Regions from separate parts of the Homo sapiens genome. Here region 2 is linked to region 1. The links come from fine-mapping of genetic effects on gene expression. Tissue or cell type: whole blood. Region 1 holds a variant in brackets; the other region holds the start of a gene. All regions are shown on one strand. Distances are between the middles of the regions.

Region 1 (10,166 bases):
ATGGGGAGCTGTGCCTTTCTTCTGTGCCTGCACATCACAAACAGGTGGCCTCATTGACATCATTGAAGTCTTCAGGGCTCTGCTTTGAGAAGGGAGCCTGTGGGAGAACAAAGGCCTGTGGGGCAAGGCAGGGGGTGCAGCACCTGGGCAAAATCTGGGTCCAGCTGGGACATTCAGATGCCCTGCCAGGTGGCTGACCCTGTGGGGGAGGGGAAGAGGGTAGAGGATGAAGAGAAAAAGAGTGCAGATCCAGATTCCCCCACAGCGATTTCTAACCAGTTATGTCTGGAGAGACTGAAGCAGGTGAATTAGTCTCTCGGGCACGGTGTTTTGCAGTTGAGAGAAAGAAATCCTAGTGTCCACATTGAGATTGGGAGGAGCAAGTGGTGGTGGGTGGGGGCTGCCCTCTTTTCATTCATTCAGTCAGTAAACATTACTTATTGATCTAGGGCCTAAGCAATATAGAATTGAATGTGAGAGACACAGTCCTGCCCTCATGAAACTTGTATTCTAAGTGGAGAGTTAAACAACAAAAATAAATGAAGAATTCAACTGGTGAGAGGAGCTAAGGATACAATAAACAGGATGACTGCATAGATGGTGGTTGCCTTGGGGTGGGGAGGAAATATGACAGTGAGAAGGAGGGCATCTTGAGAGATGAAATCTGAACAAAGGCAGAAAGACAAGAGGGAGGCATTCATGGGTGATCTGAGCTTGGGGGCTGCATCTTAGGCAAAAGAGAGGGCAAGTGCACAGGCCCCGAGGCAGAGACCAGGTGGGCACACCTACAATAGTAGGGAATAAAGAACAGCCTGGCTGGTCATGAGTGGGAGGAGTGAGCTGGGAGGGGAGGATGGAGAGGAGCAGGTGAAGGTCAGATGGGGAAGGACCCATAGGGCAAATGAGTCTGGTTTTCACTCTAAGTTCAGGTGGAACATATTGAGTGGACAATGCCAGGACTGGCTACTTTCTGAAGAACCTTTGTGCAGCTCTGGGGAGGTCTGACGCTCGTGTAGGCTAAGTCTCCTAGGGTGAAACCCTCTGGCTACCGTCAGCCCCTCTGTGTTGTTCTGACTGTGCTGCAGCCCAGGAGGCCTCCCTAGGGAGAGCACAGTCCTACGTTGTGACCCAGGGGATCCATTCCTCGTTGGACCCTTGCAGGGGAAAGGCAGCACCTGGGATGCTCAGGAGGAGCTTGGACATACCCCAAGGCCCCTGCCTTGCTCTGCTCCATTCCTATCTGCCCGGGCTGGCTGTGGATGAGGCAGGACTGGGTGTCCTGGGGTGAGTTAGCAGGCCACAGGTGTTTGAGATGGGGGACCCTTCTGGTTACTAAGCGCTTGCAGCTGTGTCCATGGATACCCACTCCCACCCTGGGCTTTCCCTCTGAACCCCTCTTTGTCACCCATGGCTGGGATCTCCAACATCCCTAATCCATCTCCACTGAGTGCGAGAGTTTCATGGCCACACTCTGTTAGGTGGCCCTGGCAAAGGACCCAGGCTTCCAGATCCAGTCAGGAGAGAAGCCCCCTTCAGGCCTCTGGCAACTTCCTGGGGACCACGGGGTGCTGTGGGGTCACCCTGCATCATCTCATTGCTTCTTCTCTGTCACCTGTGCAAGTCCGCACTTCACATCAAGGACACAGAGGCTCAGATGAGTCAAGGGACTTCCCCTGGTGAAGGCCGAATTGGGATGGGAACCGGCTCCATAGGGCTCTAAAGCCCATGTGCGGTGCTCTGTCCTCCTGCTAATGGGGGTGTCCTGAAGACCTTTGTCCCACCTCCCTCACGGCCCCCGCAATACCTGCACCAGGTATAGTCACCCACATGGGGAGGCCCTGGCACAGGCGTCCTGGATCCAGGCACTGGGCCACCCACTGGGTGGGGTAAGAGGGGATTTGTATGTGCTCCATCTGTCAGAGCTGGCTGGTGACAAGAGAAAATCAAAGGCAGGGGACAGAGACAGTGCCCGGAAACTTAAGGGGGACAGGTGACCTCCAGCTGGAGGCTGCCCTGACTTGGCCTCTTCCCAAGCATGCTGGGGCTGGAGGCTCAGCCTCCAGGAGGTGCTCGGCGTCTACAGGCAGCTCCTCCACCCACATCTGGCCTGTTTCTGTGCCTAGCTGTCACAGCTGTTTCCTTCATTTGCGACTTCTGTTTTCCTTTTTACCCCCTTTTAGTAGATTACCACCTGTTACTAGCTAATAATTCTTTACATTCAGTATACATGTGATGGTCACAAGCAAGGGTTTAGTTCATGAGAGGAGTGGACATGGCGGTTACAGATAGGGAATCATGCTTAGAAAGGGGTTCCAGGAGGCTCAGGGGCAGGAGCTGGAACAGAAGGCAGCTGGGAGTAAAGTGGGGAGGAGTGCTTCCTGCCACCTGCTGTTGTGGTCAGGGAGTCTGGGCTTTGGCCTTTGGCTGGTGGTTCGTGTTACAGTTGAAGATGTTGATGGCTGGATCAACACACATCACTGTTACCGTAATCCACGCAGGAGCCACATGCTCTGGAGATTTGGGGATTGCAGTAGGAAGAAACTGGTTTTCAAAAGGTCCTTTTGAGGTCACTGAGCTCAGGCCTATCTTACACAGGTCAGACAACTTTAACACAGGGAGGTCCTGCCTGGCTCCTCTCACTGTCTTGGATAAATGGACAGGACAACAGGACAGGTATCAGGACATGACACCATTTTCTGCGGTGGATGTCAACCATCCAAGCCCTCACGAGAGCTAAACGAGCGACTCCAGCTGGACAAGATCAGCTGGGCTGAAATTGGAAGTGTCCTAAGAACAGTGTGCATTTTCCTTCTCGGGTGGGAGATGTGCTGGACACTTTTATTCCAATTCTCTTTCTTCTATTGCAATGCTACAAGCTAATCCCCCCCCACATTCCAAAGTGAGTAATAAATATATTTAAACAAAGGATGTTTATAATCAACAATCAAAAAATATTGGCAGCAAAGAGGATTATTTTTAATAGTGTACATTTATTCAAAAGTATATAAAACAACACTGTAAATTATATAATCTCACATAAAAACACTAGAACTTGATTTGAATAACAAAACAATCTACTAAGAAGTATTGCTCATGAAGATTTTTGTGCCCACCTTTCCTAACTCAGAGGCCCTCATTTATGTCGCAACAGCAAGGTGGCAGGGAATCAAAACTGGCACACATTCTATATCCTTCACAGCACTGCAGGGCAGGACAAGACTCCGTGGCAATGGTTTTGGCCTGGCTGTTCTTGGCCCACCACACCTTGTCTGGGTTGTGATTTTTTACAGCCACAGCTTCAGGTTCCTTTGCAGCTCTTGAGAAAAGACACACACAAAGCACAGGCTTAGAATTTTTCTTCTCAGCCCTTTTGTTAGAACTGTTGGGGGGTATCTGGGGAGTTTAGTGCTGAAGCCAGTCAAACATGAACACCAGCCCTACATTAAAGCTCTCTCCCCCATCCCAAGTTCCTCTCGAATCCTTTCCTCTTCTATGATTGCTATAAATGTAAACTGAGGTTACAAAAGCAAGAGTGAGTGATTTTGCAAGCAAGGTCACCCAACTGGTCACTGCAGGCCCCCGAGATGCAGGAATGATGGGAAGGTGCTGCATTTGGCTGTGTCCCAGGCTCCGGGATGTGCCATTGTGAACTCCTTAGAATGGGGACACAATTGCATCTGACAACCAATCTCTCTGGTACTTAAAGGGTCTTCTCCCCAAAATGCAATCTTATCTGACCTACCCTCCCTTGTCCACTGTTCCCCAGGTTTTTCACACGGTTCAGCTGTCCCTGAGATCTAGAGCCCCAGTCATTTTCCCCAAGGCCTCCAGAAACAAATGGAGGAATATCCTGAGAGCTCCCAATTCAGGCAAGAAGAGATCAATCCAGCCCGTCCTCCACATGAGCACAAGGCAGAGCTCGTTCATGCAGCCTCCCCCACAGAATCTGCAGCCTACAGTGCCCAGGACAGAGGGAGTCTTGGCCAAGGTGCTGAATTAAACACCTGATGGTAAACTTAGTGAGGTCCAGTGACAGCCAAGCAGCGCTGACACTCACAGGCCAAAGCTGAGAACATTCTACCAACCCCAGCCAGGAAGAAAAAAAATAAGATTCTACACTCAGCTGTCTTTGCTTTTACAAAGCTGCCTGTTCTTCTTGACTTCACCCAGGGTATGGCCACAGCAGCAAGGAATGACCTTGCTCCAACAGGAAGCCCAGGTATCCCACTGAGGAAGTGCTATCCCCTTTTCCCCATGTGACTCACTTTAGTACGTTGTTTATTTTGAACTTGTGACTCACTTTAGCGCGTTGTGTATTTTGAAGTAAAGACAGAGCACGACAACTATCAGCAGGAGCAAGGCCGCCAGGATACCACCAGCGATGACA[G/A]GCATAATCACTGTATGGAGGTCAAAAGACTTCGATGTACCTAGGCAGATAAGTGCAAGCAAGCACTGAGCCCACGTGGTCTCCCTCCCCACACAACCACTAAGCAATGCCAATGTCAGGGGAGGAAGAAGAAACCCCAAACACAGATCCTTATGTGTGTAAAACACAAATGTCTTCCCAGGGCGGCCTAGGATCCCAAGCTGGCCCAGAGATGGAAAAAAAGAAATAAAAAAAGTCAGTTTGTCAATGAAAAGGAATGGAAATGCAAAGTCCAGAGAGAAGGCTATCAGAAGGACAAACAGTGGGAAGAATCTTTCCCTTTCACAGGTGTGATATGCGGCTGGAAATAACAAGCAGGCCTGCAGTGGAGCTGATGGCGTCACTCCCCAGCACCTGGGCCTCCTGAGCTATACTCATTTTCAGAGTCAGAAATGACCCCCCACTGGATATCAGGCTCAAAGCTCTTCTGTGGAAATGACTGTTTCCAAATGTTACTGTCCCAACAATACTGAGAATATGCAAATCCATTTTGTAAATGATGCATGTTTTAGGAAAAGAACTTTACAATTCTTCCTCTGACAACTGGCATTTTTCCTCCTAAATCTTAAATTCTCCCAAGAAATCCAATTTGAGATAATAAATTAGTTTAACTTTCTGAAACTGGGAAAAAGTGAGTCAGGGGAGAAGAATAAACAATCTGATTGCCAAAGCATACTTACCACCTTCTAACTCCTCATGGCTGGATGAAAGCCAACAGTAAAAAAAAATTACAATCAAAGTAAACTTTAGGGAACAGGACATCTCATCACGAATTTCTCAAACCTTTAATTTGAGAAAGAAAATTCTAATGATTAACATCCAAAGTTGAAGAGCTTGCTTTTAGAAGCAGTCTTCCAGCAGAGCTAGCAGAATGGATATCCACAATCTAGTTCCAACTTCTGTGCCAATCAGGACACACGCTGTGTGACATCAACGCTCTGGACACCAGCTCTCTTTCATGGAGTTCTGAATTCCATTCCACTTCCAGATATATTTTAGCACCAATGGAAGTAGATATGCCTAAATACTCTCTTAAGCCATGGAATACTCAATCTCCCCTTTTCAGGCTTTGTTTCCCTCAGAGAAAAGTTTTAGTTAAGAGTCTGATTCCCAGAGATGCTATGTTATATTATTTTAAATGTCCAGTTTTCAAAAAAGCCTATAAGAAAGTATGGCCCATAAAGGAGTGGGGGAGCAATAAATAAAAACTGTTTCTGGAAGAAGCCCAGACATTGGCCCTACTAGAAAATACTTTTAAAGTCTTTTAAATATGTTCAAAGGAATCCATGTCCAAAAAACTAAAGGAAAATATGAGAATAATGTCTCATCATAAAAAATACCAATAAAGATAAAAATTATCAAAATAACCAAATAGAAATTATGTCATTGGAAACTACAATAACTGAAATGAAAAATTCACTAGAAGGGCTTTCATAGCAGATTGGGATTGACAGAAGAATCAGTGAACTTGAAGATAGTTGAGATTATCCAAACTGCAATACAGAAAGAAAAAAAAATGGGTAAAAGTGAACACAGGACTTCTGGTTTCTGCACAAACATGTGAAGGGCTTGGGAGTCATCATTCCCATCCTCACAACAAGTAAAAAGCTGAATAAAGTGGCTGAATAAAAGCTGAATCAACAACTCTTAAGTCAACCAGAAAATTGAAGTCACAGGGCAAACAGCCACCCCCAAAACTAAAGAGAGAGGTGAATACAGAGAATCCCAGCTTAGGAGCAGAAGCCATTGCCAGAGCCAGCAACTGGTAAGAACACTTACATGGTAACTGATGTCTTCCTGGATGATGAATAGGGACTAGCGGAATATTTAAAAACTCCTGAGGGCCCAATTTTGTTTTGTTTTGTTTTGTTGGGTGGGGGCACACATTCATGAGTCATATCTCCAGGAACTCACCAGGTTCTTATAATGAAGACAACAGGAAAATTCCTTTCTGTTTTAGTCTCCACTGACACTGCAGTGGAGGTGGCCTTATTACCACTGCGAGATAATAAAAGTCATGAAATTTCACCAGGCCTCCTCTGATGCCACCCCAGAAGTTAAGTGGAAAGTTGCCCCATTATCTATTGAGTCAGAGAAGAAATCCAGACTCCCCAAGGGGTCTCCACTGATACCACAGGGGTCAGAGGTGAGTCTCTGCTCTTTATTCAGCCTTCTCTGACACCACCCTGGTGGAGGGGTGCTTTGGGACACTTCTTTACAGCTTGGTAACAGTAGACATCTAGGCTCTCTACTCAGTCTTCGCTGGTGGAGTTGGGATAGGGCCATAGCTTTTTCTATGGTGTTTGCCTAGAATGCAGAAGCTATTGTCTAAAAGTTTTCTGTCTTGTTGAGTTGCCCATTTCCTGGTCTTTTGGCCAGAAAAACCAGTTTCTTGGTGGGGCTCTTTTGTCTGAACCCATTGGTGTTTCCAAGTTGCTCACTTCTTCAGCTCCAAGTTTAGGAATCCGAGACAAAAAGCAAAACTTAGGGAACTCACTACCATGCTATTACTTTGATCCCAAGGTCCCTAGCTAGCCTTCCTTCTTCTCTCCACCTATTCAAGTCTTATGTTTGTTTTATATATAATGTCCATGGATTTTAGTTGTACTTAGGAAGAATAAGAAAAAGTATCTCTTCCCATAAGTGGAAGTCCCCTATATGGGAAATTTTTAAATCAGTCCTCTGCTTAAAAGCCACAGCCTCTGCACCAACCCTACACTTGCTCAATCCTGAAAATGAGTGTTTCCTTACATTTTGTACCCTGGGCCCTTCGCATGTGTTATCCAGCCCATATCTCAACATAACATCTTTCCAGCCTCATCTCCCTCTCCATTATCCCACACCCCATGTATTTTCATGCCTGTGACCTGGTTAGATGGCCCTCCCTGTCCCTCGCCTCCTCTATCTGCTGAAACACCAATCCTGCAAGACTTCAATAAAATGCCATGTCCTTATAAAACCTTCACTGATTTCCACCTCTCTCCCTCCCGTGTTAATTGCTCCTCTCCCTATGTATCCATGCCCTTTGTTTGTGCCTATATGGAAATTTGAATTGTTGACTAGGTGTAGTGGTTCATGCCTGTAATCCCAGCACTTTGGAAGGGTAGGGCAAGAGGATTGGATTGAGCTCAGGAGTTTGAGATCAGCCTTGGCAATATGGTGAGACCCCATCTCTACAAAAAATTTTAAAAATGAAAGTGAAAATAAATTAGCCAGGTGTGGTAGCAGATGTCTGTAGTCCCTACTTGGGTTCAGAGGGATATAACCCTAAATAAGCTTAGTCATCATTAAGGAGCTAGGCCCTGTGGACCCTCCCCATGGGGGTGACTACTTCATCTCTCGGTTTCCCTCTATTTCTGTGGTTACCTGATTGCTGTTTGATAGTCTGTGGGCTTGTGCATTTAAAGTTTGCTTTTTCAAGGTGTCTGTGAGCTCTGTGGGGGCAGGAGCTCTGCAACCCTAGGTATCAGAGAACCTAGAACCTATTAGGTGCTGGCACATGTTATGATCAATGACTGAAATCTGAATTTTGTCAGTCTGGTACTCACTTTTTCTGACTGAGCCTCTAAATTTAGACAGTGCAGTGACTCAGACATAGCAGTTAAACCCTGACCAATATTATTTCATTTATTAAAAAGAATGCATACTTTCTACATTGCTTGTAAGTCACCAACATTTAACTACTTCCAATGTGTTTTAGTAATATCTTTCTGAGTTGCAATGAAGGCAACCAGGAGGCAACAACTAAAACCTCTGTTTGAAAGATGAGGAAACTAAAGCTCAGAGAGTGGAAGTGACTCCCTTGGGTCACACAGCAAGTCACTGGCAGCAAAGAAACTAGGACCTAGTTCTATAATCCTTCCCTCCATCTCCTGCTTCCCAAGTCCAATGCTCTTCCACCCCCAGCCTTCCTGAACCTTCTGAAATGATGTGTTGTTCCCCATTCCCAGTCCCCCAACTCTATTATTCAAAGGCCATGATTTTGGCTGTCAGCTGAAAGATCTGCAAATAAATCCCGTTGCATTTCATTTAAGGAAGGGGCTGATTTTTGTGTTGATGTTTTCATTCGAAGCAATATCTCACTGATGATTCACATGTGGTGACTGCTTAAGAGTATTGAGAGGGATGGGGCCATGTGTTCCAGATGGCAAAAGGTAGGCAGCAACTGTGCTCAGAATCAGTGAGTTCAACTTTGCAAAATGCGATTCCCAATACAGGGGCTGGCCTTTTCTCTATGGAAATTCTCTGTAATACACATCCACAAGGACTTTCACCCAAGTCAGTTATTTGCGAACTGCCCATCCTGTGACTAACACCTGTGACTAACCACTAACAAATGGTGCAAACACCCCGATGCCTGCTAAATTGCATCTCTGGTGACAGAAGCATCCTGGATCCAAAACTACATAAGCCTGTGAGCTCCCTACTTGACCCAGTTCCCATCTCTGTGCCTCCTCCACAGCTCCTTCTGCTCCGCTCCCGGGAAACTTATCTTTACCTTCAGACTCTTGGTGCAGATGGGGACCTTGCTATGGCCCTGGCAAATGCCATGAGAAGAGTTGGGTTTTGCCCCAGAGAGAGGATCTCCTTAACTGAATCTTTTATTCTCAGAGAAATAAAGATTGTGGTGAACAATATGCAATCGGATTTTATGAACTGCCAAGGTTTGAAGACAGTTTCTGTGTCTTTGTAAAATCCAAATGGCACATTTTACTATACGTCCCAGAACCAGATTACACCTCTCTTCCCATCTCCGAAATTCCCATCCAGTCTTTCCCTCACCAAACTTTATGACTGTAAAATCAGTTTTAAAAGAACCAAAGAGAAAAAACTGCAAACTTAGTGATGAATTACCATGTTCTACCTTATCAGTGCCTGTCTAGGTGATCCATGCAGATCCCCCGGCGGTGCAGGCACGATGAGGAAGATCACAATCTGCCACGCACTGGGCTCTGGGATTTGCCCTCTAACTCACAGGCTTAACTTCCACAAAATGTGACAAGACTGAGTCTGTCAAATCAACCTCTCATTTCTTGGGAGGCATTCTTCTCATACTCACATGATTCAAGAGAAGTAACAGTTCATCTTATTTTACCTGCATAAATAATGGCTCCTCTGCTCCAGGAAGGGCAAGAAACATTTCAAAAAGAGCTCCAATCATGTGTCAGACATCCCCTTGTCAGGCATCCTCCAGGGTCTTCCAACTGCAGCTTCCCATCTCACCACTTCTAAGGCAACTGGAGAGGGGAAAAGAGAACAGCTCAAGTACTCTCTAGCTCAGGAAAGGGGAGATCATTCAGCTTGTCAGTTTCTTCAGTCTACAGTGCCTCAGACAGAGGGAGAGCTCAGCTAACATGCTGAGTTAAACACCCGATAGTAAACTCAATTATTTAAAGTGACAACAAGGCAGCGCTGACGCACAGAGCCACCAGGCTGAGAACATTTTATTTACAAGCTCACAGCCCCAAAACAGAAGGTAAAAAAGCCAAGAGTGTACATAAACATGCCTTTGCCTTTCAACCTCTCCTGCTGTTCTTGACCTGAACCATATGTGGCTGCCACAGCAAAGAATGCCCCTGCTGAAGCAGAGAGTGTCCAGGTATCCCATTTGAAGGGATGTCCCTCATTGTTAAGTGACTCACATCTTTGCCATGGCACATTACAAGGAGACACAATCAGCACAGGGGCAGCACCCAGGAAGAGACCAAAACCAACTACGATCTCTGTCCCAAGACCAGCA
Region 2 (10,166 bases), 30 kb after region 1:
AAAAAAAACCCTGAAACTGGTGATCAACGGCTTGCCGATAAGATCTCAGGAGTTGGACAAGTGGGTTCAAGCATGTGCACTAAGAGGCAAAATGGCAGAGTTTAACTGGTATATGACCTTCTAAGAACATTTGATGGGTAAGAGAAGAATGCTTCAAGTGAGCATGCATACAACTCCAGTAAACACACTATGCATACAGCCCCGCCCTAGTGCTGGCACGCCACTGAGCATGCAGACAGCCCACCCTGAGGGAAGAATTAGCAAGAAATAATGCAACCCTGGAAGCATGTCAACATGTAAGACCCAAAATCAAAGGTCCAACCACGCACTTGATCTCTCAAGGCGCTTGCTTGGCCCTCTTCCAAGTGTACTTTTACTTCCTTTTGTTCCACCTCTAAAGCTTTTAAATAAATTTTTCCTTTTGCCCTAAAACTTGCCTTGGTCTCTCACTCTTCCTTATGACCCTTGGTCGAATTCTTTCTTCTGACAAGAATTGAGGTTGCTGCAGCCCCCTGCAGATTCACTACCACTAACAACGGGAAGGCTAGAGGGGGCTGGAATCTTCTAATTGCCCTTTCCCTAGAACAGATAAGGCTCTGGTAAAGTACTTTCCCTTGAGAGAAGGCTTTTGTTAGGGAAATGCTGAGGGCAGTTTTCAAAAAGGTTACTTTGCCCCCTCCTTCTGCACAAAGCAGGAGGGAGTTTTAATCCAATCCTTGTCCTAAGAATCTGCTGCAGCTCTGAAAAGTAAAACTCCCAAAAGTGTAAGGGCACCATATGAGTGGTCTCCCAGGAGTTTCTAACTGTCAAGCTAACTCACACTCAGCATCCAGCAAGTCATCAATGACCATTTTAAGTGTTCCTACCATTTGCTGCCTCATGAGGATTTCTGTTCCTAGCATGCTGATATCAGTTGTGATTTTCTGTATTTGCCTACCCAGTTTGGGGGTGGCCATTTGCTTTGTGACCTCCATTATCTGATGGATATTTTAAAGGCTGTTAATGTTCCATTTGTTCAGCTTTTTTCTTGTGAGGACAGTTGTGATTGACTTCTAAGTGGTTTACGTGTCACAGATGAAACCAGAAGTGTTAAAAAATAAGAAAAGAGCACACAAAAACAAAAGCTTTCTAGAATATTCAATATTTTGAGGGTAAAAGGTCCTGGGACTAAAGTGTTTGATTGCCACTATGCAAAGGCACTCTGTTAGCAACAGTAGATACATATATGATTCTACTCTAAATTCTACAAGTTATATATAATAAACTTCTCTTTAAAACAGTCAAGCCAAAAAAATACATTGTGATATTGGTGGAAAGATTTCAAAGATATGCCTTATTCTTTATTTCAAGTGAAAAAATAAAAATAAAGCAAAAAATACCATTTGCCATTCACGACAAGAGTAATTTACATTAAAATTGAGGTCACCTAGGCACCAGCACAACACCCTGGCTTTGTAACCATCTGAAGGGTTCTTCCTGCCTGCTACACAAAGATCATGGCATTGTAGTAAAGAAAGAGTTTAATAGACATAAGGCCAGCCACAATTCTCATCCAAAGCTTATAGGTTAGGGATTTTTCAGAGGCAGTTTGGGGGAAGTGGTGGAGGTCGCTAGGCTTGCTGCTGATTAGTTGGGGCAGAGATGAAATCACAAGGGGTGAAGCTGTCCTCTTGCACATTGAGTCACTTCTGGGTGGGGCTGTAGGAATGGTGGGTGTCAGACATGCAAAAAAACCCTGAAAAGATATCTCAAAAGGCCAGTCTACAATAGTGGTGTTATCTGCAGGAATAATTGGGGAAGTTGCATATCTTATAACCTTCTGAATAATAACTGATAATAGTTCATGTCTGCACCTTAGCAGGACCCAGGCTCCTCTCCTCCTGCCAGCCTGATGCAAAAGCAGTTGAGTTTGGGGGAAGGCCTATGATAATTTAAACTATAGCCTAAATGTCCCAAAAGCCCAAGAATAATCAAGGCAAGACTGGGGATGGATTAGCTCAGATCTCTTTCACTGTCATAATTTTCTCACTAACTTTTGCAAAGTTTTTTCAGCTTTGAAAATAAGATTGAATTTGCCAGTTTCACCTCTTTCTACTCCTGTTATACTGTGATAGAGTTCCCAAACAACCCCTATTGCTATCTCTATCAATTCCATACAACAAACCTATACTCAATCTCTACTAGGCACAAAACAATTCCTATTTTCAACAACTGTACAGATGGTTGGGAAAACAAATGTGAGAATTATTTGGTAAAGCTCCATACCAGAAGAGAATTATAGTATCTAAAAACTCTAAGTGTAGCAGAGAGAAATTACTGACAAATTCTCTCACAGTGTGGAGGGCTGTGCTTGGCACTAAATGATGAACAGGATTTTTCCTATCCAAAAGAAGGGGCATTCTAGGTAGAGGGAAAAGCATGTACAAAAGCTGGGGGGTCTAGGAGGCAGGCAGAAGTCAAGGATAAAGGGCTTTGTATGCCTGTTAAGAAGTAATGGTGGCCAGGTGCGGTGGCTCACGCTTGTAATCCCAGCACTTTTGGGAGCCGAGGCGGGCGGATCACTTGAAGCCAGGAGTTTGAGACCAGCCTGGCCAACATGGCAAAACCCTGTCTCTCCTAAAAATACAAAAATTAGCTGGGCCTGGTGGTGCACGCCTGTAGTCCCAGCTACTCAGAAGGCTGAGGCAGGAGAATCGCTTGAACCCAAGAGGCGGAAGTTGCAGGAGCCGAGATCACACCACTGTACTCCAGCCTGGGTGACAGACTGAAACTCCATCTCAAAAGAAAAAAAAAAGTAATGGTGATGGTGATTCAGTCAGAAAGCATCAAGCATCAGGACAATTGATAAAAGATTAGAGGGCAGTGCAGAAAATGAAACGCAGGTGAGGAGATAATGACTATCAACCAGTAAAGAAACTCCTGGAATTGTTCCGATGAAAGCTAGTATTTCAAAACAGAGAGGCAGAGATGGAGAAAGACAGGGAAGTTTTTCTTTAAAAACCAAAAATAAAACAAGACTGGGTGATAATACTGAACATACGAGATTGAAAGAAAGGGGAGACGACAAAATGCTGTAGGCTTTCTGCCTTATTTAAGGAAGTCAAAATCCAGCTTATAGTATTGATCTTGCTCATGAAGTTTCAGATAGGTAATTCTAAAAAGCCTATTTTCCTTTAGACTGTCCAATTATGATGACATGTATCAAAGTTAACTTATGACTACAATGGGCTGGGCATAAAGAACAGGAAGTCTGGTGTACACAACTTAGAATGCATCTGGAGTACAAAAGGAAGAAAGAGGCAAGATCTACTTCCTATTCCATGGGGCATCTGGAAAACTCCCTCAGGCGACCGCTCCATCCAAACACCTGGGATCTTTCTCAACCTTCTGATTTCTGTCACGAGGGCATCCAGCATAGTCCTGGCAACGCCGTAGGATCAGGGAGCATCAAATGAGATGGCACCTGGGGAAGGCCCGTGTGGCCCAGCGTCCACCACTAACGCCGTTCAATATCTACCTCAACTCCCCTCTAACGCGAGAATGTGTATGAGAGAGGCAGGGAGAGTTCGGAGTAAAATTAACCCGAATGGACAGCGCTTCCGCCGCGTTCGCTGCCACAAATGCTGCAGACCCGACGGAGTGGAGGCAGAAAAGGCCCTGGCGTCCACTCGGGAAAGAACGAGGTCAGGAGTCGGTCCTGCACATCGCGTAGAGCGAAGAGACGACACCTACCTGACCATAGACGCTCCCCATCCGCCCAGCAACCGTGGTCCATGCTGCCTGCGTCCACCGCCAGCGTCGAAAAACCGCCGTGGTGCCCGCGCACAGTGCACCGCGCCTGCGCATGGTCTCCAAAGGCTGAGCGAGGGCCTGCCAGTGCGCATGCTCCGCTCTTTAGCGCTTCCTGAGCAAAGTTTGAACGCCTCTCGAGTCCAGTTGGCTTATGCGCATGCGTTTCTCTGGTGCAGGTTCTCACCAAATCCAGAAGCGGCGGGCATTTGAAATGATGTAAGCCGGGAGTCGCTCTGCCTGCCCGTTTCTGCGCTGCACTGGCCGACACTTAAGCACTGGAAGAGAGGCCTGGCAGGAGGCGGCGCAGTGGACACGCGGTCCGAGGACGGGGGCCTCACCCGCCGCCCCACGCTTGCCTCTTCCTGGGATGCCGCAGGCGGGGCCCTAACTCACAGCCTCCTCACCCGGGCTCGTGTCTGCGCCCGCGACTTCGACTGGGAGGAGCTTCTGGCGCCACCTGCGCCACGGTGCGCCGGGCCGCCGGCGACCGGGTCGCTGCGCTCGGCGACTGCCGCGCTCCTCGGGGAACGTGAGGGTCTGAGTCCGGGATCCAGGAGAGCAGTTGGTGTCGGGTCTCTGCGGGGGAGCGGGGCTGCGAGGTGGAGGCGAGGACCGGGGTGGGCGGAGGCGGGGTAGGTCTGGCCGGGAAGTACCCGAGGCCCCGAGGCATGAGCGGGGGAAGGTGACCAGGACTTGGAATTTCATAAACGTCCCCGTCAGGCGTGACGGGTCGTCAGGGCTGCTATCAAAGTCAGTCCGCCCATCTACCCTCAAACAAGCCACCTCCTCTCCACCAAAACAGGCTGTGTAAAAAGTCCAGCTATAGACGACCGCCGTCGACTTAATTTCGAAAAAGATACACTTTGTCTTCTATTGTGTTCTGCTCCTACTCCTGTGCACACAGTAGGTGTCCAGTAATGTATCCGAGAATCAATTGCAGGGGACTGAGTAGAACGTTGATGATTGAGGAAAAAATAGAGGGGGAAGCCCTGATGTGTGATGCCTCCATTTCCTTATGAATTCTGTGTTGAGCATTTGTTAGAATAAACCTCATGGCCTAACAAGTGGGTTTTGAGCCATGTTCAGAAACTATACTGTGTGATGTTTTCACCTGTTTTCTTCTCAGCCAGAATCTGGTGATTTAGAAGAGAAGATTGAACAACCAAGATGAAAACCCCTGCTTCCTTTACCTGAGGTGTGGCCCTGATGGAGGTGAAGAAATCGCTTCTATTGGCATTTTAAGTTCAGCAAGAAATATGGAAGTGTACTTAGGAGAGGAGTACTGTGGAACCAGTAGGGGCAAGAATGTTTGTACTGTCTTGGATGACAGTTGTGTGACTTGTACACGGGAAAGTGTTCTCCTGAATTGGTGTCTTTATTCTGTTCACCTTTTGCAATATTGATTGACTCTCTGACATTGATGTTTACATTAGAGAAGAGAAGATAAAAACCTACTATGGCATAGAAGGTTAGACCATTAAAGCATCTTCTAGGCAATCTAGTTCAGCTTCCTCATTTTTAGGAATGCAGAAATTTAGAGCTAATAAAGGAGAGGTGAGCCTGGAGAGGGTCATACTAGTTAAAGTGTCCAGGCAAGAGTGCAGTCCTTATTGCTGCTTCTTGACTCTCTCCATAAACTCACAATGGTCTGTTTTCCAGAAATTAATTTGACAGTCAGTCTGAAACTTTGATCACATATTTTTTAAGGAACCTACAAGCCCAAGGTGGTGCCACACCAGCCTATTTAGTCCATATTCAATGTGTTATAGTTTGATCTTTTCCCTAGTCCCTTATAGGAACATTCTACACTAATCGCGCCTTAATATAAATCAAAACGTCAACTATTTTACATATTGTGCATATTGGAAATAATAAATACACGACACAGGGTTATTGACCAGGTCACTTGAGAAGGGATCTCAACTGTTTGTCCCCTACCAGGCAAACTGAATCTCAGGATTTAAGTAATGGCCTGGAAACAATTTTTTTTTACTGCAGCTGTTTAAACTGATAATTTATATAAGTGAAAAAATAATTTTTATTCTATTTTCAGTAAACGCGAAATTATTTTCTACAAAAATTACTTAATATTGGCATCCTCCACTCATGCCTGTAAAATAAAGGTAGGTCATCACTAAATTTTAACTAATTTGACAATTGCAAATGTATGTATAATATACTTATGTACTGTTGGTTTGTTCATACAGTTAGTCCAACTTAGTCCTTGTTTATCTTTATATGAAACTATGGTGCCAAGAAAACCACGTTTTGTCCCCATTATGTTTAAAAAGACAAGAATTAGAGAAGTTGCAGAGAAAAGCACCTAAAAGCTATTTGGACTGGTACCCTGAATATGAAAAATATTGTTGAGGTGAACTTTAGTGATGTCATCAGAGTTAAGAGTACTGAGCTACAAATAGCCCAAGGTATTAATGCAGTTCTGTTAGTTACTGCCTGAGTGACCTTGGGAAAATCTCTACATTTCTTTGGACCTACCTCATGGGTAAATTAGAAGACTAAAGAAAATAAAGCATTGTATTCTTTTTGTCTCCACATTATACAGGGTTGTGAGACTTACTTTAAGGAAAAAGTTGGCCGGGCATGGTGGCTCATGCCTGTAATCCTAGCACTTTGGGAGGCCGAGGCAGGGTGATCCCTTGAGCCCAGGAGTTTGAGACCAGCCTGGGTGGCATAAGGAGACTCTGTCTCAAAAAAGAGAAAAAAATAAAAAGAATAAGGAAAAAGTTAATGATTTTTATAGCAGGCAAGTAACAAACTTACAGATCAGATTGTTCCAAGACATTGTTTTAGGTAGTATATATTAATCGCTTCCAAAGTCATTTAAATAAAGTGATTTATTCAACAAATATTTGAGTGCCTACTGATACCAGATACAGACTGTAGTAGGCATTTAGGAAGCAGCAGTAATAAAATGGAGCAACTACCCTTGTGTTGCTTATATTCAAATGGGATGAGACAGGTAATGAGCACACTCTGAATAAAATTGTGTTTTGTTTGGTGGTGAGAAAGGCTATAAGGATTAAGAAGCAGAAAGGGGATAAGAGAGAGGATGAGAGGCGACTGTTTAAATTTAACAGTGTTTTCTTAATTGTGAAGGATGGTCACATCTTTGGTGCCATGGGTCTGAATTGACCTGTGTCTTTGGGTTACATATGGTTCTGTGTGTCTCTCTGAAGATGAGTATTTTTTGTAACTATTCTATGGAAGTATATGTGAGTGCAAAGGGTCATTTCATTTAGGAAAATCCCAAGCCTACTAAAGCTTATTCTGAGGCAGCAGAATATGAAAGTTACAAAAATAGTTACTGATGAATATTTTCAAATACTTACTCATTGGAAATTTTAGCACATAATCCCAACCACCATGTGAAATCACTGATATGATCCTCCCTCATGTTAATTCTGATTTGTGTTTTGGCATTTGTCCAGGATCATACAGGCTATACAGAGCAGACTCATAACTGAACTCTGGTTTATCTCATTCTAAATCCTGTTTCCTTTCCATTTTGATACTGTTTTTGGTGCCACACATGAAATGTCTTTTGGTTCATAAACATGAATGAAGAGAGGCAGCATAAAGCATTGGAGAGGGCACTGTTATAACAGCCAGGAGAGCTAGGTTCTAAGCCTGACTTTTACTAATTGGGTAATCCTTTGACAAGTTAGAAAATTACCTCTAACTTCATCTTTTTAAATGTGTAAACCAGTGGGTTACGTGAGACCATCTTGACCCTGCCTTATAATTCTAAATGGCTCATTTATATTTAGTAATTCAGTAAACACTTTGGATGGGCTTCTGAACACCCTTATTTTGTATTAAAGAATATTATAGTAAGCAGCTGTGTGTTAAAGTCTCAGATTGGCATAGTCTATTCTGAGTTGCTTAAATAAATGAAACTTTAATTTTACCTTCTTTCATATATTTAGTATATTTTTTTAGTTTGAAAATGACATTGTCTTATATAAATTGTTCTTCTGAGTTTCATAATAAATTGAAACCTCTGACCATTACTGTATTAGGGAAAACTTGAAAATATATTTAAAGTTTATATTTGTTTTCCTGAATACTTTACTCTTGTTGATAATACAAAGGAGTGACCTTAAATAGTGAATATTGTTTAATATTATTATTTATTTTCCTGAACTTTGTATTGTAATAGTTGCGCTCCTTTGGTGAAAGACAGTGTGTGTTCATCAGTAAAGTTGTGATACACATGAGAGCAGTTTCAGCAAATTATTCAACAGGCTCTCCTGCTGTAAAATCAAGAATAGAACTAGACAGGATCCAAACCATAATGGAGTCCATGGGGTCAAAGTTATCTCCTGGAGCTCAGCAATTGATTAATATGGTTAGGTTTCAGCAGTGGGTAAGTAGAAATGGATGACTTTCCAGATACCATTAAAAATTATAAGTAATGGCTTTTTATAAATACATGTAGTGATGTAAATTTTTTCTTTGAAATTTTGTAATTGATTTAACTGTTATCTTTATTTACTTGTGTAAAAAATAACATTTCATAGACTTGCCCTCCTACAAAATATTTTGACTACAAATCTTCACACTTTTTCATGAATTCATTCACACATTCATTCAGCAAGTATTTATTAAGCACCTTCTTAGTGAACAAGGCACTAGTTTGGGTACATTTCATGATGCAAAGATATCAGTTTATAATTTGTCTTTAAGGATTTACATTCTAGGACATATAAATGGGGAGGGATGAAGAAGATTAGGAAAGGCTCACTAAAGGAAGTGGTATTTTTATCTAGGCCTTTAAAGGACAGGATTAGGCAAGTAAATTTGGAAGAAGGCCAATTCAGACAAAAAATAGGCTGAATAAAATCTTCAATGCTAAAAGAATTGGATGTAGCTGAGAAATGAGTAGTAGTTCATTTCTCTGAAGCAGAAGGGGAATAGGGGAAGTTTAAAGTAGATTTCAGCTAGGTCATAGTGAGAGCTTTGAATGCTACTTCACTTATTTTTTGAGATGGAATCTCGCTCTGTTGCTCAGGCTGGAGTGCAGTGGCACGACCACGGCTCACTGAAACCTCTGCCTCCCAAGTTCAAGCGATTCTCCCACCTCAGCCTCCCTAGTAGTTGGGATTACAGGTGCCTGCCACCACACCTGGCTAATTTTTTTTGTATTTTTAGTAAAGACGGGGTTTCACCATGTTGGCCAGGCTGGTCTCAAACTCCAGACTTCAAGTGATCCACCCGCATTGGCCTCCCAAAGTGCTAAGATTACAGCATGAGCCACCACACCCTGTCTGAGTGCTACTTTAAATTTGTAAGTATTTCCACTGTCATGTGTAAGGTAAATCAAAAGAAAGTGAGACTACAAGGAGAAGACCAGCTACACGTTATTCCCCTCATCCAGATGAGCGAGAATGAGGGTCTAAGATTGAACATAGTAACATGATGCTGTATGGTGAAATGCTAAAACAATGGAGCTGTTGGGACTTTACAACTAACTTAATATTGGTGTTGTGGGAGAAAAATAGAGTCAAATGTGAAATTGAGGCTTTAAGGATGGCAATACAAATAATCTAAATTCAACCCAAGGAAGGAGGATGCTTGGGGGGAAGAAAAGTTTAGTTTTTGGAATATTGAGTTTTAGCTGTGAATAAAACATTCCCTGGGAGGATGTTGCAAACATCTGAAAACAGAGGATTAGGAGAAATGGAATGAACCTTAAGTGGCTGGAAGGGAAGTTTAGAGGTGTATCCACAGTAGCTGATGGAGTGTGGTGAAGAGAGGGACTGAAGCAAGGAAGAAAGATCCTTGGAGAATAGCTGCATTTGTACAGATACAGGGAGAGGAAAAAGGAACCAGAAATGTAGAAGGTAGCAGAGGGATAGAGTAGCAAGAGAAAGGATTTGATGTCAGGTAAAATTACCTCAAGCTCTTGTCCTGTCTCCTCTTAGTTCTGCATCCTTTGGGCAAGTTGATTCATTTTTTTTTTTTAACACAAATTCTTCATGTGCAAAATCTAAATCTAAGTGGTAACACTGTAACAATCACAGGATTGATGTAAAAATTTAAAATAAATAACGCAAGTAAAGAACTCCTTGTAGATGTGTGGCCTACAGATATTAATGTAGTGCCGCTATTACCATGTGGGCTGAGTTAAGAGAACAAGGAGAGCTGAAGTTATGGAAAAGACGGAAGAGTTCCAAAAAAGATGGAAATGTGTACTTTTCTTCCTCCCACACCGTGATCTCACCTGGATACCTCAGGAGGTTCCTAACTGGTCCTCCAGCTCTGCTAAAATCCATTCTCCACAGTGCACTCAGAATGGCCTCAAAGTTCTCATCCTGTATAAGACTTTCTCACTGCTTCCCATCACACTTAGA

The links. PIP is the estimated chance that this variant, and not a neighbour inherited with it, causes the effect.
Region 2: it holds the start of FAM24B, and the variant in region 1 is fine-mapped to the expression of FAM24B in whole blood (TOPMed, PIP 0.94).

Annotation. Positions count from the first base shown.
Region 1 is chr10:122,846,124-122,856,289 of GRCh38, forward strand. FAM24B (family with sequence similarity 24 member B) reads right to left here. Exons shown (of 4, transcript NM_152644.3): 2 at 9,522-9,663; 3 at 4,301-4,427; 4 at 2,955-3,316. The coding sequence starts at 4,392. The coding sequence ends at 3,124. It overlaps FAM24B-CUZD1 (FAM24B-CUZD1 readthrough), which reads right to left. Exons shown (of 11, transcript NR_037915.1): 2 at 9,522-9,663; 3 at 1-97. Among named protein-coding and RNA genes, the nearest start is that of CUZD1, 5.4 kb to the left of the region's middle. RefSeq lists enhancers at 1-23, 24-523, 590-1,471, 8,570-8,864 and a silencer at 8,570-8,864. The variant G/A (reference allele first, on the strand shown) is at 4,388.
Region 2 is chr10:122,875,753-122,885,918 of GRCh38, forward strand. It overlaps FAM24B (family with sequence similarity 24 member B), which reads right to left and starts at 3,829. Exons shown (of 4, transcript NM_152644.3): 1 at 3,733-3,829. It overlaps FAM24B-CUZD1 (FAM24B-CUZD1 readthrough), which reads right to left and starts at 3,889. Exons shown (of 11, transcript NR_037915.1): 1 at 3,733-3,889. It also overlaps the pseudogene C10orf88B. RefSeq lists enhancers at 38-558, 559-1,078 and a silencer at 9,041-9,171.